2 linked regions of the Homo sapiens genome follow. The protein of the gene in region 1 purifies or fractionates together with the protein of each later gene. This does not show direct contact. Each region holds a gene or a part of one and is shown on either strand. Other genes may lie near its edges. The genes, in order: DPP7 and CEP78.

Evidence for each region.
Region 2: the proteins of DPP7 (region 1) and CEP78 purify together in Homo sapiens (affinity purification with mass spectrometry, with the first as the bait; one large-scale study listed by BioGRID). This does not show direct contact.

What each region holds. Positions count from the first base shown.
Region 1 is NC_000009.12:137,111,765-137,116,070, reverse strand, and holds the start of DPP7 (dipeptidyl peptidase 2 isoform 2 preproprotein), read left to right. Parts: upstream 1-1,337; 5' UTR 1,338-1,357; coding exon 1,358-1,424; coding exon of another isoform or gene 1,425-1,494; coding exon 1,495-1,608; intron 1,609-1,688; coding exon 1,689-1,828; intron 1,829-2,042; coding exon 2,043-2,206; intron 2,207-2,574; coding exon 2,575-2,710; intron 2,711-2,783; coding exon 2,784-2,865; intron 2,866-2,951; coding exon 2,952-3,118; intron 3,119-3,265; coding exon 3,266-3,326; intron 3,327-3,840; coding exon 3,841-3,959; intron 3,960-4,041; coding exon 4,042-4,198; intron 4,199-4,306.
Region 2 is NC_000009.12:78,273,802-78,277,170, reverse strand, and holds part of CEP78 (centrosomal protein of 78 kDa), read right to left. Parts: 3' UTR 1-3,369. UniProt on the Homo sapiens protein: Centriole wall protein that localizes to mature centrioles and regulates centriole and cilia biogenesis. Involved in centrosome duplication: required for efficient PLK4 centrosomal localization and PLK4-induced overduplication of centrioles.

The sequences.
Region 1 (4,306 bases):
TGTGCTTGGGGAGCTGGCCAGCTCTCGGCCTAGCTGGCGTCTCCAGAGCTGCGGTCCTGGGTGAGGGTTGCTGGTGGAGTTCTGGCCACCTAAGGCACCCGAGGGAGCCAAAGGAGCAGAGGTGTGGGGTGGGGGACGCCGTGGGGTACCTCCACATCCAAGGAGGTCTGCTGTTTGTCCTCACCCCCGTCCTGCGGGGGCCCCGGCAGGCAGCCCCAGGAACTGCGTAGGGATGGGACAGGGCCCAGATGTGAGGGCCGTGGTGGGGACGGTGTGTGGCCCTGGATGACCTCGTGTTGCAGTGTGACGTGATGGTCACTGCCACCATGCTGAGGGCCCCAGCCACCAGTCACCCACCATGGGGGGTGCCTCTGTGTGAGGCACGGGAGGGCCATGGCGTGAGGGGCTGTGGAAGTGGCCGGTCTTCTCCGCTCAGCCCCACACAGGATGGGCAGGGCAGGGTCATGCTGGCCGAGGGTAGTCTTGGGAGAAGGACAGGGTAACTCTCTGTAGCTGAGCCCCTGCTGCCCCTGCACCTGTTCTGGGCCTGGCTAGCGGCCCATGTACATCCCCAGCAGGACTCCACGTAGCTAGTCTGGCACCCACCACTACGGCCCCCTCACCCACTCCCTGAACTGGACGCTGGGGAAAGGTGACTTCTTCCATCCTCTGGGTGCTCCCCAGGGAGGAGGCCCCAGCTCCCAGCAGAGGCCTCTGGTCCCCCCTTGTCCCTGCAGGGCTGTGTGGGCACACTGGGTGCCAGTCGGAAGGGCAGGTGGCGATTCCCAGCTCTTGGGAGCTACCCGGCCACATCCCGGCCCTGCCCAGACGCTCCAGGGGCACCCCACACTCCTGCCCGCTGCGAGGCCCCGCCCCGCCAAGCCCAGCCCGTTATCGCTTGGACAAACCCTGGGTTGCTTTCTTCGGGGGGCCAGCACTCTGTTTGGGACCCTCTCCCTCCCGCCCTTAGGGCAGCAGAACGGCCCCCACTCTCCCGGCCCTGCCTTGGAGTGGGGCACCTGCCAGGAGCAAGTGCTGGGGAGGCTTGGCGGGCGCAGCAGGGACTCGCCCTAGCGCAGCTCCGGATGGGGCCGCGGTAGGAGGACGAGCCAGTGGGGCGGGAGGCCGCGGAGATGGCCCGGGGGCCCTCTGCTTCCCCGCGCCGTGCCCGGGAAGGACCCCTGGGCAGCGGCCGCGGGGCGCGGGGTGTTGGGGGGCACAGCCCCGGCGCGGCGCTGAAGCAGCGACGGTCTCCGTGGGGACCGCGGGCGCCCGAAACACGTGGGGCCTGGAGGGAGGAGCGCGCCCTGGCGGCCCCGTGACCCCGCCCACGTGACGGGCGCCCGCGGAAGGCGACATGGGCTCCGCTCCCTGGGCCCCGGTCCTGCTGCTGGCGCTCGGGCTGCGCGGCCTCCAGGCGGGGGGTGAGTGGCGGCGCCCCCCGGCCCATTCCCCGGTCCCGGCCCCGCCTCTGAGGTTCGCGTCCCCCCACAGCCCGCAGGGCCCCGGACCCCGGCTTCCAGGAGCGCTTCTTCCAGCAGCGTCTGGACCACTTCAACTTCGAGCGCTTCGGCAACAAGACCTTCCCTCAGCGCTTCCTGGTGTCGGGTGAGACCCCGGCCCCGGCCCGGCCGCCCCCGCCGTCCCGCCGCCCCCCGGCACCCTCGCCTCATCCGCCCTCCCCACAGACAGGTTCTGGGTCCGGGGCGAGGGGCCCATCTTCTTCTACACTGGGAACGAGGGCGACGTGTGGGCCTTCGCCAACAACTCGGCCTTCGTCGCGGAGCTGGCGGCCGAGCGGGGGGCTCTACTGGTCTTCGCGGAGCACGTGGGTGCCGGGCGGGGTCGCGGGCGGGGTCGCGGGGCACGTGGGTGCCGGGCGGGGTCGCGGGCGGGGGTCGCGGGGCACGCGGGTGCCGGGCGGGGTCGCGGGCGGGGGTCGCGGGGCACGCGGGTGCCGGGCGGGGTCGCGGGCGGGGGTCGCGGGGCACGCGGGTGCCGGGCGGGGTCGCGGGGCCGGGCTCAATGGCACGTTCCCCCAGCGCTACTACGGGAAGTCGCTGCCGTTCGGTGCGCAGTCCACGCAGCGCGGGCACACGGAGCTGCTGACGGTGGAGCAGGCCCTGGCCGACTTCGCAGAGCTGCTCCGCGCGCTACGACGCGACCTCGGGGCCCAGGATGCCCCCGCCATCGCCTTCGGTGGAAGGTGGGCGCCTCCCCCGGCCTCCGCACCCCCTCCCTCCCCTGCCCCGACCCAGCGCCCCCAGCCCTTCTCCCCACTCCCCTCTGACTCCCACCGCTGCCTTTTCGTAAGGCCTCAGGCAGTGGTTCCAGGCTTAGTGTTGCCTCCCCCAGGAAGCCCTCCCACCTGTCCTCCCAGCCACCTGCTCAGCTTGGATGTGCGGCCACACTAGCGGCCTTTCCCAGTGAGAGCTGCACCCGCACCTGGCCCAGGGTTGGAATTTGTGGGTCTCAGAAGTGTCGTCCTCCTTGTGGCACCTGTGGGCCCCTGAGGAGGAAAAGAGGAAATGGGGTGTTGGGGGCAGCAGCCCTAACCCTGTGTCCCTCACCCAGTTATGGGGGGATGCTCAGTGCCTACCTGAGGATGAAGTATCCCCACCTGGTGGCGGGGGCGCTGGCGGCCAGCGCGCCCGTTCTAGCTGTGGCAGGCCTCGGCGACTCCAACCAGTTCTTCCGGGACGTCACGGCGGTGAGTGAGGCTTGGGGTCCTCCAGGCCCCCTAAGGGACAGCAGCTGCAGTCAGCACGGTCTCTTTCCCCCAGGACTTTGAGGGCCAGAGTCCCAAATGCACCCAGGGTGTGCGGGAAGCGTTCCGACAGATCAAGGACTTGTTCCTACAGGGAGGTGAGGTCCTCCCACCGCCTCCCACTGCCTGACCCGCCCCAGCGCCAGCTATGCCCAAACTTCAAGTCTCTGCCCCTTCCACGCAGCCTACGACACGGTCCGCTGGGAGTTCGGCACCTGCCAGCCGCTGTCAGACGAGAAGGACCTGACCCAGCTCTTCATGTTCGCCCGGAATGCCTTCACCGTGCTGGCCATGATGGACTACCCCTACCCCACTGACTTCCTGGGTCCCCTCCCTGCCAACCCCGTCAAGGTGAGGCGCCGCCTCCCAGGGCGCAGGGAGAGGCCGGCTGGAGTGTCCCGAGGCTGGTGGTCAGCGGCCTGACCCTCATCCTGGGAGCCAGGGAGGCGGAGCTGGTGGAGGGGACCCCGCTGAGTCGCCGCTGCCCCTGCACTCCAGGTGGGCTGTGATCGGCTGCTGAGTGAGGCCCAGAGGATCACGGGGCTGCGAGCACTGGCAGGTGCCCTTCCCCCGGCCCCAGATGGGCAAGTGTGGAGACCCCAGGCTTGGCTTGGGTCCTGGGGCCGGGTGGGGCGAGGATCCGCAGCCCGGCCAGGGGCTTTGCCTCCTGCCCCAGGGCTGTGGTGGGGTGGACAGCACGACCTTCCCAGAAACCCTGGGGGAGGCAGGGGCCGTCCCTGGGGACCCTCTCAGCACTGGCTGTAGCCAGGCCCAGCTTGGTGGGTGCTGCCCAAGGGGCCCCTGGGGTCCCCAGCATGGAGGGCAACAGAGGGCAGCAGGCCCCACCCTGCCCCGTGGAGAGCGGGGGGGCCCTCAACAGTCAGGCCCGGGGCTGGCAGCACAGACACCGCCGACCTCCAAGCAGGTAGCCTGGAGGGCCTTCCTCACTGGGACCTACAGATCCCAGAGCCCCAGATCCCCTGCAGGACCATTCCGAGGGGGGACAGGTTGGTGGCCGGAGCCCGCGGTGTGTCTGTGTGTGGCCGCTGGGCCCCAGCGCCTCTCCTCCCCAGGGCTGGTCTACAACGCCTCGGGCTCCGAGCACTGCTACGACATCTACCGGCTCTACCACAGCTGTGCTGACCCCACTGGCTGCGGCACCGGCCCCGACGCCAGGGCCTGGGACTACCAGGTGTGGGGGTGTGGGTGGCCTGGAACCACTCGGGGGCAAGGGTGGGCGTGGGCTGGCCTGACTCAGGCTGGGGCACCTGCAGGCCTGCACCGAGATCAACCTGACCTTCGCCAGCAACAATGTGACCGATATGTTCCCGGACCTGCCCTTCACTGACGAGCTCCGCCAGCGGTACTGCCTGGACACCTGGGGCGTGTGGCCCCGGCCCGACTGGCTGCTGACCAGCTTCTGGGGGGGTGGTAAGGCTGAGGGGGGGTGGGCCAGCGTCCTGCTTTCTGCCCCGAGCTCTGCACCCCCTGCCCATGGCTCACAGCCCCCGTGAGGGGCCCACATCACAACTTTCTCTG
Region 2 (3,369 bases), about 59 Mb from region 1:
TCATCTTGATTTTTTTCATCCATGATATGAAATAAGAAAAAGTAGTAAATAACCTCAACATCATTTACTGAATAGTTCAAACCCTTCTCTACTGACTTGTGATGCCATTTTTTAAATACATATATATATACATTGCTCTGTTCCTAGGTTCTCGGTTCTATACCTGTGATTATTCCTGTGTGAACAGCACATTTACCCTAACTCCATGGATTGTTTTGAGATGTAATCAAAATTGCTTTATGCCTGATGACTTTCAGATTAATGTTATAATCAGGTTATTACATCCATTTAAAAAGCTTTACTGTGGTTATATGAAATTGCTTTGAATTTATAAATTAATTTGGTAGAACTATTTATTATGTTGGGTCTTATACATGGCATACCTCTATTTTTGTGTTTCTTTTATACCCTCTAGCATAGATTTATCCTTTTATTTATATAGGCCTTACATTTCTCTTGTTAATCTTATTTCTAGATAATATTTACTTCTCGCAGCTATTGTGGATGAGAGTCTATTTCCTCATACATTTTCTAATTGGTTATTGCTGGTGTACACACTTTTCATACCGGTGTGTTGGTGTTGTGCACAGCCTCCTTATTCAGCTTTATTAGCTGTAATAGCATGCCAGTAGATCATCACAGGGGGTTTTTTGTCCAAAAAAAAAAAGACCCCATATTTACAAATAACGAGAGCCTTGTCTCATTTCCCAAAATGTGTACTTTTTAGTACCGTTTTTATCTTAGCAAAAACTTTTCACCAAGTTTGTTTCCTGTGGATTTCTGTTAGGTATATTTAATGAAGCCAAGAAGCTAAGCTAAGGAAGTTTCCTTCTATTTCGAGATTGTTAAGAATACCAGAGGATGTTGAATTTATCACATACTCTTTCAGCTTGTGAAGATGACTATACTTCTTTAATCTGTTAATTTAGTGAGCTACAGTGAGTTACTCTTCACTCAATCTTGCATGTTTTGGTACAAATCTTCCTTGAAAATGATATATCTTTTGCTACAATGCTGAATTCAAACTGCTAGTTTTATTTTGGATTTTTTGCACCTACATTAATTGAATTTGGTTTAGTTTTCCTTGTGTTTTATTTGTGCAGTTTGCTATAAGGATTACGCTAACCGTATGGAATGAATTAGGGAGCCTTACATCTCTTTTCTATCCTCTGGAATGGTTTACAAATAAATGTGCCCCTGGAAGGTTTTTCTTTTTCTCTTCTTGAGTCGGAGTCTCACTCTTGCCCAGGCTAGAGAGCAGTGGTGGCATGATCACAGCTCACTGCAGCCTCGAATCCCGGCCTCAAGCGATCCTCCCACTTCAGCCTCCTGAGTGGCTGGGACTACATGCACGCACCACCATGCCTGGCTAAGTTTTGGGTTTTTTTGTTTTGTTTTGTTTTTTAATTTTTGTAGAGATGAGGTCTTGCCCAGGCTGGTCTCAAACTGCTGGTCTCAGCAATGTTCCCACTTTGGTGTCCCAAAGTGCTGGGATTACAGACATGAGCCACCACACCTGGCCCCTTTAAAGTTTTTCTAACTGTATTTTTTTTTTTTTTTTTTTGGAGACAGAGTTTCCCTCTTGTCTCCCAGGCTAGAGTGCAACGGTGTGACCTCAGCTCACTGCAACCTCTGCCTCCCAGGTTCAAGCGACACTCATGCCTCAGACTCCTGAGTAGTTGGGATTACAAGTGCCCGCCACCAAGCCCGGCTAATTTTTGTATTTTTAGTAGAGACGGGGTTTCACCATGTTGGCCAGGCTGGTCTTGAACTCCTCATCTCAGGTGATCCGCCCACCTCGGCCTCCCAAAGTACTGGTATTACAGGCATGGGCCACCGCACCTGGCCTCTTTTTAAAAATAAGTTCTTGTCCTATTTTTTCAATTTCTCCTAAGATGTTTCGTTTATTTACATTTTCTATTTTTTATCAATTTTTACAATCCATATTTTTAAACAGTCACATTTCATCTAGTCTTTCAAATTTATTGGTTTAACACTACACAATTATTTATAGTAAATTATAAAAGTGCTCATAATTAAAAATATCTCTTCTAGTTGTAGGTATCCTTCTAAAATTATTCCTAATGCTGGCAATTTTTGTTAATTACTTCTTGCTTTTTTTTCTTTATCATATTTTACAAAGGTTTATCTTTCATTTTTAAAAACCTGTGTTTCACTGATCAAAATTTGCTATTTTATTCATTTCTGCTTTTACCAATTCCTCACCTTTCTTTTGGTTTATCTCTTTCTTAGCTTTAAATGTTTAATTCATCTCTTTTGTCTTCTTTCTTCCTGGAAAGTAAATCAAAATCTATACAATTTCCTCTAACACCTCTTTGGTAGAATTCCTCAGCTTTAGAGAAGTTTTTATTAATTCTAAATAATTTGCAATTTATTTTGATTTCTCCTTTAAATGAGTTATTTAGAAGATCATTTAAAAATTTCCAAGTGGACAGGCCTTTTGTTACTATTATTACATTATACAGAGCACATGATCTGTATGATCTTTGAATTTTGTAAGTTTTTTACCTTCATAGGAATCATTTATATGAATGTTCTATTGGTTTTCCAGGAGAATATACTTTGTATTCATCATGGATACAAAATATTTATGTTCAATGGTATCCTTCATATCCTGATCTACTGATGGGCAAGAGGGATGAATTTTTTAAGCTCTAATATTATTATAGAGTAAAACTAATTTTTTTGAGAGTATGCAGTTCTATAAATTTTAACATATGTATAGACTCACGTTACCACCACCGCAATCAGGATACAGAACTGTTCATCACCAAAACAAACAAACAAACAAACTCCCTTGTACAGCCTCTTTGTAATCAACTCCTCCCAACCCCAACACCTGGCAATCTCCAATCTGTTCTGTCACTATAGTTTTGTCTTTTCAAGAATGCCATATAAATGGAATCATACAGAATGTAGCCTTCCGAGACTGGCTTTTTCACTCAGCATATGATGTTGAGATTCATCCGAATTGTGGCATGTTTGCCACCATATGGATACATCGCTATCCATTCACCTGTTGGAAGACATCTTGGTCACTATGAATGGAGCTGCTATAAATATCCACGCACAGGTTTTGTGTGAACTAAGTTTTCATCTCTCTAAATACCCAGGAGTGGGACTGCTTGGTCATATGGTATGTGTATGTTAGCATTTAAAGAATCTGCCAAACTGTTTTGAGTGACTGAGTCATTTTGCATTCCTACCAGCTGTGAGGAACTCCAGTTGCTCTGCATATTTATCAGCATTTCAAAATGTTAGCCATTCTAGTGTGTGTGCAGCAGTCGATCCACTGATTCTGAAAAGAGATGTCTTAAAGCTTCTTGTTATAACTGGCTGGCCATTTTT